Linked DNA regions of Homo sapiens. The protein of the gene in region 1 interacts with the protein of each later gene in a pairwise test. Each region holds a gene or a part of one and is shown in the gene's direction. Other genes may lie near its edges.

What was found. Proteins that work in one complex are often made in the same cells at the same time.
Region 2: the proteins of CFAP206 (region 1) and SOX30 interact in binary tests that used the Homo sapiens proteins (3 or more experiments, as listed by UniProt).
Region 3: the proteins of CFAP206 (region 1) and EIF4ENIF1 interact in binary tests that used the Homo sapiens proteins (3 or more experiments, as listed by UniProt).

The regions. Positions count from the first base shown.
Region 1 is NC_000006.12:87,417,957-87,424,994, forward strand, and holds part of CFAP206 (cilia- and flagella-associated protein 206), read left to right. Parts: intron 1-251; coding exon 252-460; intron 461-7,038. UniProt on the Homo sapiens protein: Essential for sperm motility and is involved in the regulation of the beating frequency of motile cilia on the epithelial cells of the respiratory tract. Required for the establishment of radial spokes in sperm flagella.
Region 2 is NC_000005.10:157,625,162-157,628,459, reverse strand, and holds the end of SOX30 (transcription factor SOX-30), read left to right. Parts: intron 1-1,738; coding exon 1,739-2,120; 3' UTR 2,121-2,781; downstream 2,782-3,298. UniProt on the Homo sapiens protein: Acts both as a transcriptional activator and a repressor. Binds to the DNA sequence 5'-ACAAT-3' and shows a preference for guanine residues surrounding this core motif. Binds to its own promoter and activates its own transcription.
Region 3 is NC_000022.11:31,479,826-31,486,863, reverse strand, and holds part of EIF4ENIF1 (eukaryotic translation initiation factor 4E transporter), read left to right. Parts: intron 1-7,038. UniProt on the Homo sapiens protein: EIF4E-binding protein that regulates translation and stability of mRNAs in processing bodies (P-bodies). Plays a key role in P-bodies to coordinate the storage of translationally inactive mRNAs in the cytoplasm and prevent their degradation.

The DNA.
Region 1 (7,038 bases):
CTCAATCTCTTGACCTCGTGATCCGCCCGCCTCGGCCTCCCAAAGTGCTAGGATTACAGGTGTGAGCCACCACCCCCGGCCTAGATTTTCTTTATGTTGTGGGACCCAGGAAACACATGCCTCATTATTACTAATTTGATTGGGGAGAAAAACCCTAACTTAATGTTTAAAATGTAACTACTTTCTAGGCTTCTTCTCCTTAATTGTTTTTAGTCTCCTTTATGGCTGCCTTTTCATACTCTTACAAACAGTGCCAGCTGTTCTCCATGTAGCAATCCCAGCCACCATGCAGCATATTGATTACCAGCTTGAGACTGCCCGGAGCCAGGTATACCGCTACACAGCCATCCTTGAGAAGGCAGCCAACGACCCACTCATGAGGGCTGAACTTCAGCCATATATGTTAAAAGAAGCGCTATATAATATACGACAATATGAGGTCTTCCTTCAGATCATTTTGGTGAGTTAAGTTCATAAGACCTGACCTTTTCTATATAATGCAATCTCTTTATATAAGGCCACATCAGGTAGAACCAGGTCACTAATTAAGGAGAAAACCTCAGTAACTGCTCGGTTTATATTGCTTTGGTAGAGTTAGGAATCAAAATAGAAACAGAAAAGTTGGGTTTTGATTTTAATGAAAATATTTTGGTAGAAGTTGAATTTGTATTTTTTCATTGGTACTTGATAATATGATTGTTAGCATGCTGTAGTTAAACAGTGGTGTATATGTAAGTAATACTATGTTTATTTTAGTTCAGAGCAAGTATGTAACATTGTTTGGCAGGTAGTTGCCTTTCAAATAATTTTTGTGTAATTATTTGTTCTCACTGTAACAACTGGTACAAAATATTTTTTTAAAGGTTTTTTGTAGGCCAGGCAGAGTGGCTCATGTCTGTAATCCTAGCACTTTGGGAGGCAAAGGTGGACAGATCGCTTGAGCCCAAGAGTTCAAAATCAGCCTGGCCAACATGGCAAAACCCCATCTCTACAAAAAGTACAAAACTTAGCCGGGCACAGTGACATGTGCCTGTATTCCCAGCTACTCAAGAGGCTGAGGTGGGAGGATCACTTGAGCCCAGGAGGCAGAGGTTGCAGTGAGCCAAGATCACACCACTGCACTCTGACAGAGGGAGACCCTGACCCTGACTCAAAAAAACGTTTGTTTTTTTTTTTGTTTTTTTTTTAAATATAGATTGGAGTCTTGCTATGTTGTCCAGGCTGGTCTTGAACATCTGGCCTCAAGCAATCCTCCTGCCTCAGCTTCCCAAAGTGCTGGGGTAACAGGCATAAGCCACCATACCTAGCCAGATAAGATTTTTATATCTGGTGTTTTTAGATCTAATGAACAAGCCAAACAGTATCCCTAGAGAGTTGAAAAATATGGTAAAGTGGTGGTTATAAACTTTTTAAAAAGTAGCAGTGACCTTTCTGTCAGATAGAAACTTACTCAGAATCTTACAAATATAAAACAGATATCTACATAAAGGGACTGGAGGACCTTTTCACTAAGGGATATCCCCTTGACACTCTAGGGTTGTAAGAAACACAGTCTGTTAATTACTGCATGATGGCAGGTTATGTTCCCACTTGTCACCGTTTACTTTTACACAACCTCTGTTTTCCAGTAACTATGAGATTCTCGGTTAGTGGAACTGTCTTTTGTATGAGTGAATGCTAATTTCTTGAGGGATAGAATAGGATGTATTCTGACCACCTCTTCTTTTTAACTTGCATTGTAATGACTTGGTCCTTCTATTGGATGCACTTGGTCTGTCCTCTCTCCTTACCTAGCTGTTCTGATGACATGACTTCATTCAAACTAGGGGTTGTCCTCACAACTAGCCTATCTAATTGTCTTCAGGAGGAAGGATCCTAGCTGGGAGGCTGAGGTTAGAGAACTGCTTGAGGCCAAGAATTCAAGACCAGCCTGGGCAACATTACAAGACCCTGTCTCTACAAAAAATAAAATTAGCCAAGCATGGTGGTACTAACCTGTAATCCCAGCTACTTGGGAGGCTAAGGTAGGAGAATTGCTTGAGCCCAGGAGCTTGAGGATACAGTAAGCTTTGGCTATGCCACTGCACTCCAGCTTGGGTAGCCAAGGAAGACCCCATCTCTAAAAAGAATAAATAAATAAATAATAATAAAAACCAAGTCACACTCTTGGGGTGGATATTTCCCTTTACATTACCTTGTGGCTATCAGCCTTATGTTAACTAGTCAGCTACTAAGGGGATTTTGTAATCAATTTATTTTGAAGTGCATGTGAGTCCACAGGAGTAGAACTTCACATTCACATTTGTCACCTGTATTCAGAGGTGATATTATAAGAAAGAACCTTGAGAAACTGTCACACAACTGTAAGGATGTTGCAGAAGATGTCATTCATTATATAGAATCTTCTCATAGCTTGCAATCATGAATCCACCAACTAAGTCTTAAATTCTCATTGGCGTTCTACTTCTCACAGCTGGAGAGGACAGTGAGTAAAATGTAGAAATGATGAGTGTGGTCTTTGCAACCAGACTACATGAATTCTAATCATGACTTTGCCACTTACTAAATCTGTGTCCGTAAGGAAGCTGCTTAACTTCCCTGTGCCTTGGTTTCCGTATCTGTAAAATGGGGTTATTCATAGTCTTCACCATGTAAATAAGGCGGCATAGTGCCTGGTGCAACGGCTCAATAAAGTGATGATGATGTTGTTTATGATTATCATCATCATCATTGTTAGGGCCTTAGCTGAACAGCTGTGATTTCATTTGTCTAGTGGAACAAGCTGAAGAGCTTTTATTTTTCCATACAGTATCTCATTTCCAAGCTCCTTGCTGCTCACGTTGTTGAGAAAGTTAATTTTCTTATCCAAGCACTCTTTATGGCTGTTTTGTACTGACTTTAGTCAGGATCAGGATGAGTTTTCTTAACTTTCTGATTCTCTGCTCAAACAGTCTTTTTTGTTTTGTTTTGTTTTGTTTTTAAACTATTCAGTCCTTCCCCATCAGTCTTAGTGACAATTAAGGTTGATTATTATGAAATGGATATTGGTTTAATCAGTATTATCTCTAGATTATAAACTGCATCAATTTAAAATTAGCCAAGATTTTTCCTATATTAAAATCTATGAATATTCGTTTTAAAGTCACATTATTTGAACTAATTAAAAATTTTAAAGTAGCAATTTTGATTTTTAAAAATTCTCTCATCAAAGTTTCAGTTTATGTGAACATTTTAAAAATCCAATATAGGCCGAGCGTGGTGGCTCACGCCTATAATCCCAGCACTTTGGGAGGCTGAGGCAGGCAGATCACCTGAGGTCAGAAGTTCGAGACCAGCCTGGCCAACATGGTGAAACCCCGTCTCTACTAAAAATACAAAAATTAGCCGGGCATAGTGGTGGGTGCCTGTAATCCCAGCTATTCAGGAGACTGAGGCAGGAGAATCGCTTGAACCCAGGAGACAGAGGTTGCAGTGAGCTGAGATCGTGCCACTGCATTCCAGCCTGGGCGACAGAGTGAGACACTGTCTCAAAAAGAAAAAAAAAATCCAATATATAGCCTGGGTAAGATAGTGAATTATTTTGTTTTAATCAGGCCTTTATCTTCTGCAGTGAACACATTGAAATATTCTAGAAAAGAAAAGGGAGTGATGATCGTAGTTTTGTTGACTCTTAACTGAGAGAATAAAATTCCATCTTCCATGGGCTTTTAAAGTGCAAGGCAGACACCAAAGAGGGAAAGCTGCATGTTATTGTGCAAGTAAGAGCTGCGTTTGACAGCACATTTGTTAAAACCTGTAAGTCAAGATTTTTGTAGAGTTATTTCCCCCCAAGCTATTTTTGCAGGGCCCATTCACAGACACACAACACAGGGCTTCTTGATTTTTCTTGATAAGGCAAGTAAAAAAATCAGTTAGGTGGAATTTGTGCTTGTTTTATTATATTTTATTTCTGTTGTAATAAGAACATTAAACATCAGAGATTCCATTCTAATTTCTGCTTCTATAAGTTTGACTAGACTTGTTGAAAATTGTCCGTGGAAGAAAGTATGAGGAACTTATAAAAAGTGTTTAAAAGGTAGGGGGAAGGGGAAGAAGACAAAGAAACATGCTGGGATCACATGCTTTTGCCAAACATTTGAATGTTATGATAAAATTTTTTTAAGTGATAGCATTTTTAGAGGACTAATATTATAATTAAAAACTCTAGATGGGCCGGGCGTGGTGGCTCACACCTGTAATCCCAGCACTTTGGGAGGCCGAGGCAGGCGGATCACCTGAGGTCAGGAGTTCAAGACCAGCCTGGCTAACATGGTGAAACCCCATTTCTACTAAAAGTACAAAAAATTAGCCAGGCATGGTGGTGCGAGCCTGTAATCCCAGCTACTCGAGAGGCTGAGGCAGGAGAATTTCTTGAATCCGGGAGGCAGAGGTTGCAATGAGCCAAGATCACACCATTGCACTCCAGCTTGGACAACGAGAGCGAAACTCCATCTCGAAAAAAAAAAAAAAAAAAGGCCGGGTGCGGTGGCTCACGCCTGTAATCCCAGCACTTTGGGAGGCCGAGGCAGGTTGATCATGAGGTCAGGAGTTCAAGACCAGCCTGACCAAGATGGTGAAACCCCGTCTCTACTAAAAATACAAAAAATTAGCCCGGTGCAGTGGCAGGCACCTGTAATCCCAGCTACTTGGGAGGCTGAGGCAGGAGAATCGCTTGAACGCGGAGGGTGGAGGCTGCAGTGAGCTGAGATTGCACCACTGCACTCTAGCCTGGGCCACAGAGTGAGACTCTGTCTCAAAAAAAAAAAAACAAAACAAACAAAAAAACAACTCCAGATGATTGTGAATAAATTCTTTTTAGTAAAATGTAAGTAGAGTAATTTCTAGGACATTATTAGAAAAAAAGCAAGAAGCTCTGTGTGCCTACTCTGAATGGATCCTGCAACTACAGCTTGGGGGAGGGGTCTAGAGTATTTTTTTTCTTTTTCAGACAGGGTCTCGCTCTGTCACCCAGGCTGGAGTGCGGTGGTGCAATCTCGGTTTACCTCTGTCTCCAGGGTTCAAGCGATTCTTCTACCTCAGCCTTCTTGGTAGCTGGGACTACAGACACGCGCCACCACGCCTGGCTAATTTTTTTGTATTTTTAGTAGAGACGGGGTTTCACCATCTTGGCCAGCCTGGTCTCGAACTCCTGGCCTCAAGTGATCCACCTGCCTCAGCCTCCCAAAGTGCTGGGATTACAGGCGTGAGCCACTGCGCCCAGCCTTAGAATATTTTTTTATTTTTATTTTTTTATTTTTCTTTTTTTTTTTTGAGACGGAGTCTCGCTCTGTCGCCCAGGCTGGGGTGCAGTGGCGTGATCTCCGCTCACTGCAAGCTCCGCCTCCCGGGTTCACGCCATTCTCCTGCCTCAGCCTCTCGAGTAGCTGGGACTACAGGCGCCCGCCACCACGTCCGGCTAATTTTTTGTACTCTTAGTAGAGATGGGGTTTCACCGTGTTAGCTAGGAAGGTCTCTTATCTCTTGACCTCGTGATCCACCCGCCTCCGCCTCCCAAAGTGCTGGGATTACAGGCGTGAGCCACCGCGCCCGGCCCAGCCTTAGGATATTTTTAATTGTAGGTTTTAATAAGTATTGCATGTCGAATGCAACTTTTATTTTGGAGAACGTATGCAAATGTATTCCTGTTTCTTGTTGCTGTTGCATAAATCTTAAAAGACTTTAAAGACTGCATTTTCGTATTGATTCCTAAAACAAAACTTAACAAGCAAGGGGGAAAAAACTCTATGAGGGTAGACAAGAGACCTATTTGATATAATAGATAATAGTGTATGGAGGAATAAAGCAGGAGGAGGAGTAAAGCTTAAACAGCAGTATGGGTAAAATTAAACAGGATACACGTTACATTTATGAATAAAAATTTGTTAGTTGTAATACAATGATAATAGTTGATAGTACTCATGAAGTAATTATTTTTGTCATTTAAAAGAGTCTAGAAAGCATATAATTAGGCTACATACAGATGTCTGAGAATTCAGATGCACCTTTTTCTCTTCAAATAGATGTCATTCTTTTATGCTATACTGATAAACCCACACCACAACCATTTCTGGTGACATCTTGGGCAACACAGTATAATGGTTAAGAGCTGGGCTGTGGGCTCAGATGGTTTGGGATCCACCAAGATTGCTACCCCTTATTAGCTGCATATACTTAGACAATTTACTTACCTTACTATTCTTTGATTTTCTCATTTGTACTTATCCCTTTTTGTATTTGTAAGTATTTAATGTGGTGCTTAGCACATAGTAAGAATAAATATAATTATTTTTTTTTATTTTTTTGGGACAGAGTCTCGCTCTGTTGCCCAAGCTGGAGTGCAGTGGCTCGATCTTGGCTCACTGCAACCTCCGCCTCCCGAGTTCAAGTGATTCTCCTGCCTCAGCCTCCCGAGTAGCTGGGACATAGGCAGGTGCCACCACGCCCAGCTAATTTTTTTATTTTTAGTGGAGATGGGGTTTCACCGTGTTAGCCAGGATGGTCTCGATCTCCTGACCTCATGATCCGCCTACCTCAGCCTCCCAAAGTGCTGGGATTACAGGCGTGAGCCACCGTGCCTGGCCAAATATAATTATTTCAAATTCAGTGTTTAGCAACTTATTTTCAGACCATGATTGTTGTATCAAATATATTGTTTTTCTTTCAATGCTCTGACTTTTAAGATTTTCTGCATTCTTCAATGCGACTTTTTTCTGTTTAATTTTTCATACTTTATTCCTTGTATCAATAGATTAAGAAAGTTAAAGTTTCCCAAGTGTTGATTTATAATGTTTGTGTCATACAAAAAGTTCAGTTTCACAAAGAGTAACATTCAGTGATCTATTTAAATGTAATTTTAATCCTTATTTTAAGGTAAGGGCTTTACAATAAGCTAAATACACACAAACCTGTATATCCTGAACTGCAAAAGCAGATTCCATAGCCATATATGTTTTAATCAAGTACACATTTCCACAGTGAACAAGTACTTAGAAATATGTT
Region 2 (3,298 bases), on another chromosome or scaffold:
TAGTATGTCTGTCATACTTAGGTTTTTAAAAGTAAGGTAACAAAGTTGACTCTGTGTGTGTGTGTGTGTGTGTGTGTGTGTGTGTGTGTGTGTGAAGGCCAGAAATGAAACACTTAACTTGCCATGGGTTTTGCCGATGAGTATGGTCATTATGTTTATGTTATCTGTCACTAGATGGTTGGACTCTACCTCTTCCTATAATTCCTGCTCTATGCCTTTGAAAGAGAGAATAATACTTAAAAACAATTGACAAATGGGTTTGAGTAGCAGAATTTTTGAGGTATAATCTTTTTTAAAAAAATTTTTTTTTGAGATGGGGGTCTCACTATATTGCCCAGGCTGGCTTCAAACTCCTGGGCTCAAACGATCCTCCTGCGTCAGCCTCCTGAGTAGCTGGGACTACAGGCATGCACTACTGTGCCCAGCAAATGGCAGAAATTTTGGATTTGACTTTTTTTTTTTTTTTGAGATGGAGTCTCACTCTGTCACCCAGGCTGGAGTGTGGTGGCGTGATCGCGGCTCACTGCAAGCTCCGCCTTCTGGGTTCACGCCATTCTCCTGCCTCAGCCTCCTGAGTAGCTGGGACTACAGGCGCCCGCCACCACGCCTGGCTAATTTTTTGTATTTTTAGTAGAGATGGGGTTTCACCGTGTTAGCCAGGATGGTCTCGATCTCCTGACCTTGTGATCCGCCCACCTCGGCCTCCCAGAGTGCTGGGATTACAGGCGTGAGCCACCGCGCCCGGCCAAAAAACCATAACTTTTAAAACTGCAAAATGTCTTTTTGATTCTTCACATTCCTGCCCTCCAAAAAATGTTTTGGAAAAGACCTTTAAGACCATAGTTTACTATCAGTTTCAAATCTTTCTAGTAGTAACAGTGTTTTAAATTTACTTTATTATTGAATGTCAATGAAAAAATTTAACTTGTCTTCTGTTCCAGTGCCTCAATATTCTGGATCTCTTGATTTCAATCTAGTTATACATTTCCCCCCCAACATGAGCTTCCTTTCAAATACCACTAAAAACAACTATTGCACTATTGCATTGTTTACTAAGTGTCAATTCTGTGGGTTTTTTTGTTTGTTTTTGTTTTTTTGGAGGCGGAGTCTCACTCTGTCACCAGGCTGGAGTGCAGTGGCGCAGTCTCGGCTCACTGCAACCTCTACCTCCTGGGTTCAAGCGATCCTCCTGCCTCAGCCTCCTGAGTAGCTGGGACTACAGGCATGCACCACCATGCCCAGCTAATTTTTTGTATTTTTAGTAGAGATGGGGTTTCACTATGTTGGCCAGGATGATCTCTATCTCTTGACCTCATGTTCCGCCCGCCTCAGCCTCCCAAAGTGTTGGGATTACAGGCGTGAGCCACCGCGCCCAACCACTGAGTGTCAATTCTTAGCATAGCTCAACACACATCTGCATTTCCAAAACCTTATATGGTATGAGGCATCATGAGAGAAAGACCAGAATAAGCAATTTTGTTATCATGGTTGTCAAAGGTAAGAAGCCTGAGGCTAACGATAGATAATAGTGCTGGTGAGTATTCCAGTCACAAGCTCCCTTTCCTGTTCCTTGTGGGTGGGGACTGGGCAGTGGGAAAAGAGCAGAGGAATACATGAAGTGTTTGCAGAAAGGAACTTTCCAAACCCCAAAGAGGAGGCATTAACTTGCTCTGTTAGTCTGTATGCAAGGCAATATGTGGGCAAGATCTAATTCCTTGTTTGTGTTTTTCTGCTGCAGTACATGCCCTTACAGTCGGCCTCCCTTTGGCTATGGAAATTTTCCGAGTTCAATGCCAGAATGCCTTAGTTATTATGAAGACAGGTACCCAAAACATGAGGGTATCTTTTCAACTTTAAATAGAGACTATTCTTTTAGAGACTACTCAAGTGAATGCACACACAGTGAAAATTCTCGGAGTTGTGAGAACATGAATGGAACTTCTTACTATAACAGTCATAGCCACAGTGGGGAAGAAAACTTAAACCCTGTGCCTCAGCTGGACATTGGAACCTTGGAGAATGTCTTCACAGCCCCGACATCAACTCCTTCTAGCATCCAGCAAGTCAATGTCACCGACAGTGATGAGGAGGAAGAAGAAAAAGTGCTCAGGGATTTATAATTTTAAAACAAATATGCACAGAAAATAAACATTTCTTAAAATATATTCTGGGTCAGTTGGTATGAGAAAAAAAAAAGCCTAGAATTCTTTGTTGAAAGTTTTCAGTCGTGATTTGAGGAGTTAAAACCAAATGCAATTTATGTCTTCATAAAATTTTGATTAGTGAAACTAGAGTCTGGATGTTTCATTGTAGGAATATTTAAGTTATTAAGTAGTTTAATTTTAATGGCTGAAATTTGCATCAACATGTATTATTATTACTTTATCCTGGAACATGCAAAATACTGAAGCCTCACAGTTGTATGTGAGGGGAAAGGGGAAATAAATCTAGCATAGTGTGATTTTTATTTTATCTCAGGATACATTTTTTAAATGATTTTTTGTTTGCTTTTTATGTAATACTTATGGATGTTGTCAATTTTTGATGTAACATTTTGAAAGTATTTTGACAACTCCTAGTGAACTTGGACTTGGTTGCTAAATTTAACTTACACTAATAACCAATTATAAGTTCCAAATGTGTTTTAATGGCACCTGGGTGATTCTTCAGCTAAATTTAGTCATTTCTGTTTCTAAATATTTTTATCATTTTAAAATATTTTTTTTCCATTTGGCATACATCGTTCTTTGTTGTAATTAAATAAACATAGATAAAATTGTTCTTGTTGGATGTTTTCTGTTTGCGGGATAGAAGTAAGCAAACAGAGTATTTTTCATAGAAGATTGTTTTCTATACCATATACAGATAATTCATTTTTACCTATAGTCTCCAGAATTGCATAGATTCTATTAGCTCACACGAGACTTAAACATGTATCAACAAAGTTGCCCACACATTCTGATGCCATTTCCAAACTCTTTACACATACGTACACATGACTTAAGCACATCCCAGAATGGAAGAGCTCTTCCAGATTTGGCTCAAGCAGCTGTCTTGAAAACCATGAAGTTTATTTAAGAGCATAAGGAATTTATTTAATTCACGATGAACAAAAAAACCCTACCTGTGACATAACCTCCTGGTAAGTACCCAGTTAGGGATTGAGAAGGCCTTTTTAGAACAGTATCAGGACTATGAAAGTTGAGATCATGGTAAAAGATCTCTAAGGTACAAAGTGAATTGATGATGGGAAATAGTCACCAACCAATACGCTTTTCCCTCAGTGATCTATATAATT
Region 3 (7,038 bases), on another chromosome or scaffold:
GGTGATCTGCCCGCCTTGGCCTCCCAAAGTGCTGGGATCACAGGCGTGAGCCACTGCGCCCAGCCGTTCCAGTACTTATTTTTTTGTTTCTTTGAGACGGAGTCTCGCTCTATCACCAGAGTGCAATGGTGCGATCTTGATTCACTAGCCTCTGCCTCCTGGGTTCAAGTGATTATCCTGCATCAGCCTCCCAAGTAGCTGGGACTACAGGCGTGCGCCACCATGCCCAGCTAATTTTTGTAGTTTTAGTGGAGACGGGATCTTGCCATGTTGGCCAGGCTGGTCTTGAAATCCTGAACTCAAGTGATTCACCTGCCTCAGCCTCCCAAAGTGCTGGGATTACACGTGTGAGCCACTGCACCTGGCCCCCTTCCAGTACTTTTTGTTTATTATTTTTTTTGAGCCGGAGTCTCACTGTGTCGCCCAGGCTGGAGTGTAGTGGTGCAATCTCGGCTCACTGCAACCTCTGCCTCCCTGGTTCAAGCGATTCTCCTGCCTCAGCCTCCCAAGTAGCTGGGACTACAGGTGCACGCTGCCACACCCAGCTAATTTTGTTTTTGTATTTTTATTTTTATTTTTATTTTTTTTTTTTTGAGACGGAGTTTCGCTCTTGTCGCCGAGGCTGGAGTGCAATGATGCTATCTCGGCTCACTGCAGTCTCCGCCTCCGGGGTTCAAGTGATTCTGCTGCCTCAGCCTCCCAAGTAGCTGGGATTACAGGCATGTGCCACCACGCCCAGCTCATTTTTGTATTTTTAGTAGAGACAGGGTTTTGCCATGTTGGCCAGGCTGGTCTCAAACTCCTGACCTCGCTGGTCTCGAACTCCTGACCTCAGGTGATCCACCCGCCTCGGCCCCCCAAAATGCTGGAATTATAGGTGTGAGCCACTGCACCTGGCCTATTTTTTTTTGTATTTTTAGTAGAGACGGTTTCACTGTGTTGCTGGTGTTGAACTCCTGAGCTCAGGTGATCCACCCACCTAGGCCTCCCAAAGTGCTGGGATTATAGGTGTGAGCCACCGAGCCTGGCCCCTTCCAGTACTTTTATTTTTATTTTTTTGAGATGGAGTTTCACTCCTGCTGCTCAGGCTGGAGTGCAATGGCACGATCTTGGCTCACTGCAACCTCCGCTTCCCGGGTTCAAGCAATTCTCCTGCCTCAGCCTCCTGAGTAGGTGGGATTACAGGCATGCACCACCATGCCTGGCTAATTTTGTATGTTGGTCAGTCCTGTCTTGAACTCCTGACCTCAGGTGATCCACCCACCTCAGCCTTCCAAAGTGCTGGGATTATAGGTGTGAGCCACCACACCCACCCTTTCCAGTATTTTTTTCACTAAAGTTCTAACCAGTAGTCTACTGGTAGAGTCCAGGCAGAGAGGCTTTTGAATCACTTTCACACACCGATCAGAGGTTAACATGTATATTTCATCTTTGTGTATGTTTCTATCTTTATGCTTACATCATTTTTAGGGAGATATTTCTCTTTCTTAGGGTAGGACTTATGTTTCTTTGCAGTAAAGATTAAGAACCTCAGTATTGTCCATTTTTGACAGTCCAGCCTCAGAATTCTGTCATACGTAGATAAATGTGCCTTGAAGAACTGGTTAAAAGCATTTTTTAGCTTAATGACAGTGGAGCTTAGATTTAAGTCTTTTCTACCAAATTAATTGGAAATAGGTTTACTTTCTACTCTTAAGAGGATTTAGTTAATGACAATTTTAGGATAGTGTTTAGGCAGTGTTAGGGTAGTGCTTTCATGGTTTTCAACACTCTAGTAATTCTATGCGGGACTTGGGGATAAAGAAGTCTTCTCCCTTTAAAGAGAGCTTGAAATGATTATGTGTTCCTAGCACTATAATAAATATGTTAGTTCCACAACTGGAATAATATTCAAACCATCCTTCTTCCTTGTCTATGTACTGAGATCAAAGTACTGGAATAAATAGACTTTAATGATGTTTCTGCCACTTCAAGTTCACGGGCTAGAAGATCTAGAAGCAGTAGAGGGAAACTGTTTTCACTGGTGATTTTGAGGTGGAGTTTCACTCTTGTTGCCCAGGCTGGAGTGCAATGGCGCCATCTCCGCTCACCGCAACCTCCGCCCCAGGTTCAACCTATTCTCCTGCTTCACCTTCCTGAGTAGCTGGGATTACAAGCATGCGCCACCACGCCCGGCTAATTTTTGTCTTTTTAGTAGTGACAGGGTTTCTCCATGTTGGTCAGGCTGGTGTCAAACTCCCGACCTCAGGTGATCCGCCCACCTTGGCTTCCCAAACTGCTGGGATTACAGGTGTGAGCCGGCCGGTGATTTTTTTTTTTTTTTAAATAGGTGGTGTATTCTGTGGAAACTTGTAGCTGTGTATGTTTACTTACAGGGTCAAAAAAACACGTTGGCCAGATGAGAGGGCCCCTTAACCATTGACCCTTCTTAGTTTAGTGTTCAGTTGCTTTCTGGGATAATGTTAGTAGTTTGTTGTTCAGAATTCGAAGAGTTTTTGTTTTTCCCCCATGAGTAGAAGAAGTATAAATGTTTTGGTCAGGTGCTTTTCAGAGTAATGTACCAGAGTTTCCTTTTGTGTGAAGACATCCTTTAGTTAGCTTGTTTCGCAAATGTTAATATGCCTGGGGGATCACCTTTAGGCCTTGGGAAAGGAATTCTGAGTGGTAAGCAGGGGTGGTCCTGAAGATTCTACTTTTTAACCCACTCCCAAGTGGTGCACATGCTGCTGGTCCACTGACTATACTTTAAGTATCAAGGCTTTGGTCTTCCTTAGAGAACTTGATAAATGGTGTTGGTGGTGTCAAGTAACTCAGATGCATAGTTATTCTTTGGGGTTCAGATGATGTTCATTGTGCTTCGAAGAATATTTTAGGACCTCAAGTTAGAGTCACATTGGGTGCATTCAGACCTACTCCTAAATCTCATTGTGGGATGGTTATAAATGGGTTTATCATATGCACCTGTTACCCTGAGGGTCTTGAACCCCTAAGTTATAAATGCTGGTCTGTTTTCTAGGCCACATTCCTAAGACCAAAAGCTATATTTTGGTAGTATCTAAGTATGCATTTTTAAAGTGATCGGATCATGTTGAAGGACTTTTGGAGGTTATAGAGTGGGGTCTCACCTGAAAGTTATGGTTTAAGAGTGGTTTAGACAGTGGTTCTCAAAGTGTGCTCCCTGAACTAGCATTAGCATCATCTGGTAACTTGTTAGAAATACAAATCTCAGGCCTCTTCTCAGTGGTATTAAAGGAGAAACTTGGGGAGTAGAGCTTAACCGTCTGCATTTAACAAGCTCTTCAGGGGATTCTGGCTCTGGTTCAAGTTTGAGAACCATTGGCTTAAGAAATGATCACCTGCTCGCTGGGTGTGGTGGCTCACACTTGTAATCCCAGCAGTTAGGGAGACTGAGATGGGAGGATTGCTTGAGCCCAGGAGTTCAAGACCAGCCTGGGCAGGATGACAAGACCCTGTCACTACAAAAAAAATTTAAAAATTAGCTAGGTATGGTGGCGTATTGCCTGTAGTCTCAGCTACACAGGGGACTGAGGTGAGAGAATCGTTTGAGGCTGCAGTGAGCCATCATCGCGCCATTTCACTACAGCCTGTGCAACAAAAAGAGACCCTGTCTCAAAAAAAAAAAAAAAAAAAAAAGATCGTCTCCTGGCAGTGGTGCTCATTCAACTTTTTCTTCACCAGAAGCCCTTGTTCACCAGTTCTGGAATATAGTACCTGCTATTCTGTTAGTGATGCCATCTTCTGCTTGAAATACAAAATAGAAATGTTTTAGGCCATCCCACTATTCAGATCCATGTGGTTTTCTTTTCTGTTTTTTTGTTTTGAGACAGAGTCTCTGTCTGTCGCCAGGCTGGAGTGCAGTGGCCCTATGTCGGCTCACTGCAACCTCTGCCTCCCGGGTTCAAGCAATTTCCCTACCTCAGCCTCTTGAGTAGCTGGGACTACAGGCGCGTGCCTCCATGCCCAGCTAATTTTTTTTACATTTTAGTAGAGATGGGGTTTCACCATGTTGGCCAGGATGGTCTCGATCTCCTGATCTCATGATCCACCCACCTTGGCCTCCTAAAGTGCTCTGATTACAGGCGTGAGCCACCACGCCTGGCCTCACATCCATGTTATTTTCGTCAAGTGAATAGACTAATCTGTTTTTTTTTGTTTGTTTTTGAGACCGCGTCTCACTCTGTCACCCAGGCTGGAGTGCAGTGTTGCAATCTTGGCTCACTGCAACCTCTGCTTCCCAGGTTCAAGCAATTCTCCTGCCTCAGCCTCCTGAGTAGCTGGGATTACAGGCACGTGCCATGATGCCCAGCTAATTTTTGTATTTTTATTAGAAACGGGGTTTCACCATATTGGTAAGGTTGGTCTCAAACTCCTGACCTCAAGTGATCCACCTGCCGTGGCCTGCCAAAGTGCTGGGATTACAGGCGTGAGCTACCGCACCCGGCCAAATAGACTAATCTTATAAAGGATACATACGTTATGCTGTTCTTCCTTTGCTCCTGTGTTTTGCCACTGATTCCTTATTAAATGACTGTCACCTGCCAGTTGGACAGGGAATAAAAGCAGAGACACTCAGAACATTCAGCTTGATACTGACCAGTGTTAAACATGCGTATTAAAGTTAAGTGAATGTTGAATTATCTTAGTTTAACTTCATGTGGAATTTTTTTTTTTTTTTTTGAGACAGGCTCTCACTGTTATCCAGGCTGGAGTGCAGTGGTACAGTTAACTCACTGCAGCCTCGAACTCTGCATTCATGCGATCCTTCCACCTCAGCCTCCTGAGTAGCTAGGACTACAGGTGTGTGTCACCACACATGGCTAATTTTTTCATTTCTTTGTAGAGATAGGATCTCATTATGTTGCCCAGGCTGGTCTCCAACTCCTGACCTCAAGCGATCCTCCTGCCTCAGCCTCCTAAAGTGCTGGAATTCCAGGTGTGAGCCACTGCATCTGGCCCCATGTGGACTCCTCATAACCTTGACTAGTTACAAAGTGGCATTATTGTAGTCATTAGTGTCTCCAGGGATCTTTAAGGGAGGCCATCCTAATTTGTGGCTGGTAGGCCAATTGGTCATAGCAGTCAGTACAGCCATGTTTGTCTTTCCTTTAAAACAATCAGGAAAATGGACAAGCAGTTGAAGTGACTGACTTGAGTCATCCTAGCCTTCTTGGATATAATCAGAAGACTTGAAGCCAATCCCCAGAGAAAAGAGTAACTGATTTAAATCCTAGGTTGAAACAGGAATCAGGTGGTCCCTTTTTCCAGTACAGAAATCTTATTTGATAACTAAATGTATCTTTTATAAACTGAGTAGTAACTCAGGTGGCATTTCTGTGACAAATTTAGGTATAAACTTCTTAAACTAATTTAAGGATACCTATTTATGTTGGAGAAGGTAGAATTATGGTATGAAAAGTCATTGGGAGGACAAGGTGGGAGGATGAATTGAGTCCAGGAGTTCACGACCAGACTGGGCAATATAGTGAGACCCCATCTCGTTAAAAAAAAAAAAAATTGCCAGAGGTGGTGGTGTGCACCTGTGGTCCCAGATACTCAAGAGGCTAACGTGGGAGGATCACTTGAGCTTGGGAAGTTGAGCTTGCAGTGAGCTATGACTGCACCATTGCACTCCAGCATGGGCAACAGAGTGAGACTCTGTCTCAAAGGAAAAAAAAATTATTCAATCTTAATGTGTCAACTGTCCAGAAAACCTATCTTACTGGAAGTTGTTAGAGCAGGCTGGCTGGCAAGACCATAGAGAATAGCTTCTGACTGCTTTTTCCTACCCGTTCCTTTTTTGTTATTGTTGAGACAGAGTCTTGCACGATCTTGGCTCACTGCAACCTCCACCTCCCAGGTTGAAGTGATTCTCCTGCCTCAGCCTCCTGAGTAGTTGGGATTACAGGTGTGTGCCACCATGCCCAGCTGATTTTCTTTTTTTTAGTAGAGACGATTTCGCCATGTTGGCCAGGATGGTCTCAAACTCCTGACCTCAAGTGATCTGCCCACCTTGGTCTCCTAAAGTGCTGGGGTTACAGACGTGAGCCACTGCACCCGGCCCCTGCCTGTTCGGTTTTGTTTTGTTTTCAGAGGGAGTTTTGTTCCTGTTGCCCAGGCTGGAGTGCAATGGCGTGATCTTGGCTCACCACAACCTCTGCCTCCCGGGTTCAAGCGATTCTCCTGCCTTAGCCTCCCGAGTAGCTGGGACTACAGGCGCACGCCACCATGCCCGGCTAATTTTTTGTATTTTTAGTATAGATGGGGTTTCTCCATGTTAGGCTGGTCTCAAACTTCTGACCTCAGGTGATCTGCCCGTCTCACCCTCCCAAAGTGCTGGGATTACAGGCGTGAGCCACCACGCCCGCCCAGGAATATTTCCCTTTTAATCCCCCTTCCATAAATGTGACTTATGTGAAATTCTACATAATGTCAGAAGGTCCATCAGAATGCATAGTTGTTTCTGCATAGGATTTCTGCAGAAAGAAATGGATAAGGATTTTAACCATTGTTCTTTTGGGCTTTTGTTGAGATTCATTTGCTTTCCACTTTAATAGTGATCACCAAAAGTGGGTGTTCATACTAGTAATTCCCCAATAGGTTTTGGGAGCCTTGACACATTTTCTTTAAGGAAGGCTGCTGCAACTAAGAAAATATGTTTATGCTTCCTTGGGTGTGTGGCTCTTGGGCAATTAGCAGCTTGTTCTTGCCTAGTCAGGTTTTAGTAACCTGTGCAAAAAGTGAAGTCTCAGGTATTAACTCTTATATTCGCCATATGGTAATCTTAATGAATTCATTCGTGATCAGTAAGTTCCTATGGGTTAAGACTTTCCAGGCTAGGCACAGTGGCTCACACTTGTAATCCCAGCACTTTAGGAGGCTGAGGCAAGATGATCACTTGAGCCTAAGAGTTCAGACCAGCCTGGGCAACACAGCAAGACCTCATCTCTACAAAAAATTTTTTAAATTAGCTGGATGTGGTGGCATGCACCTGTAGTCTTAGCTGCTTGGGAGGCTGAG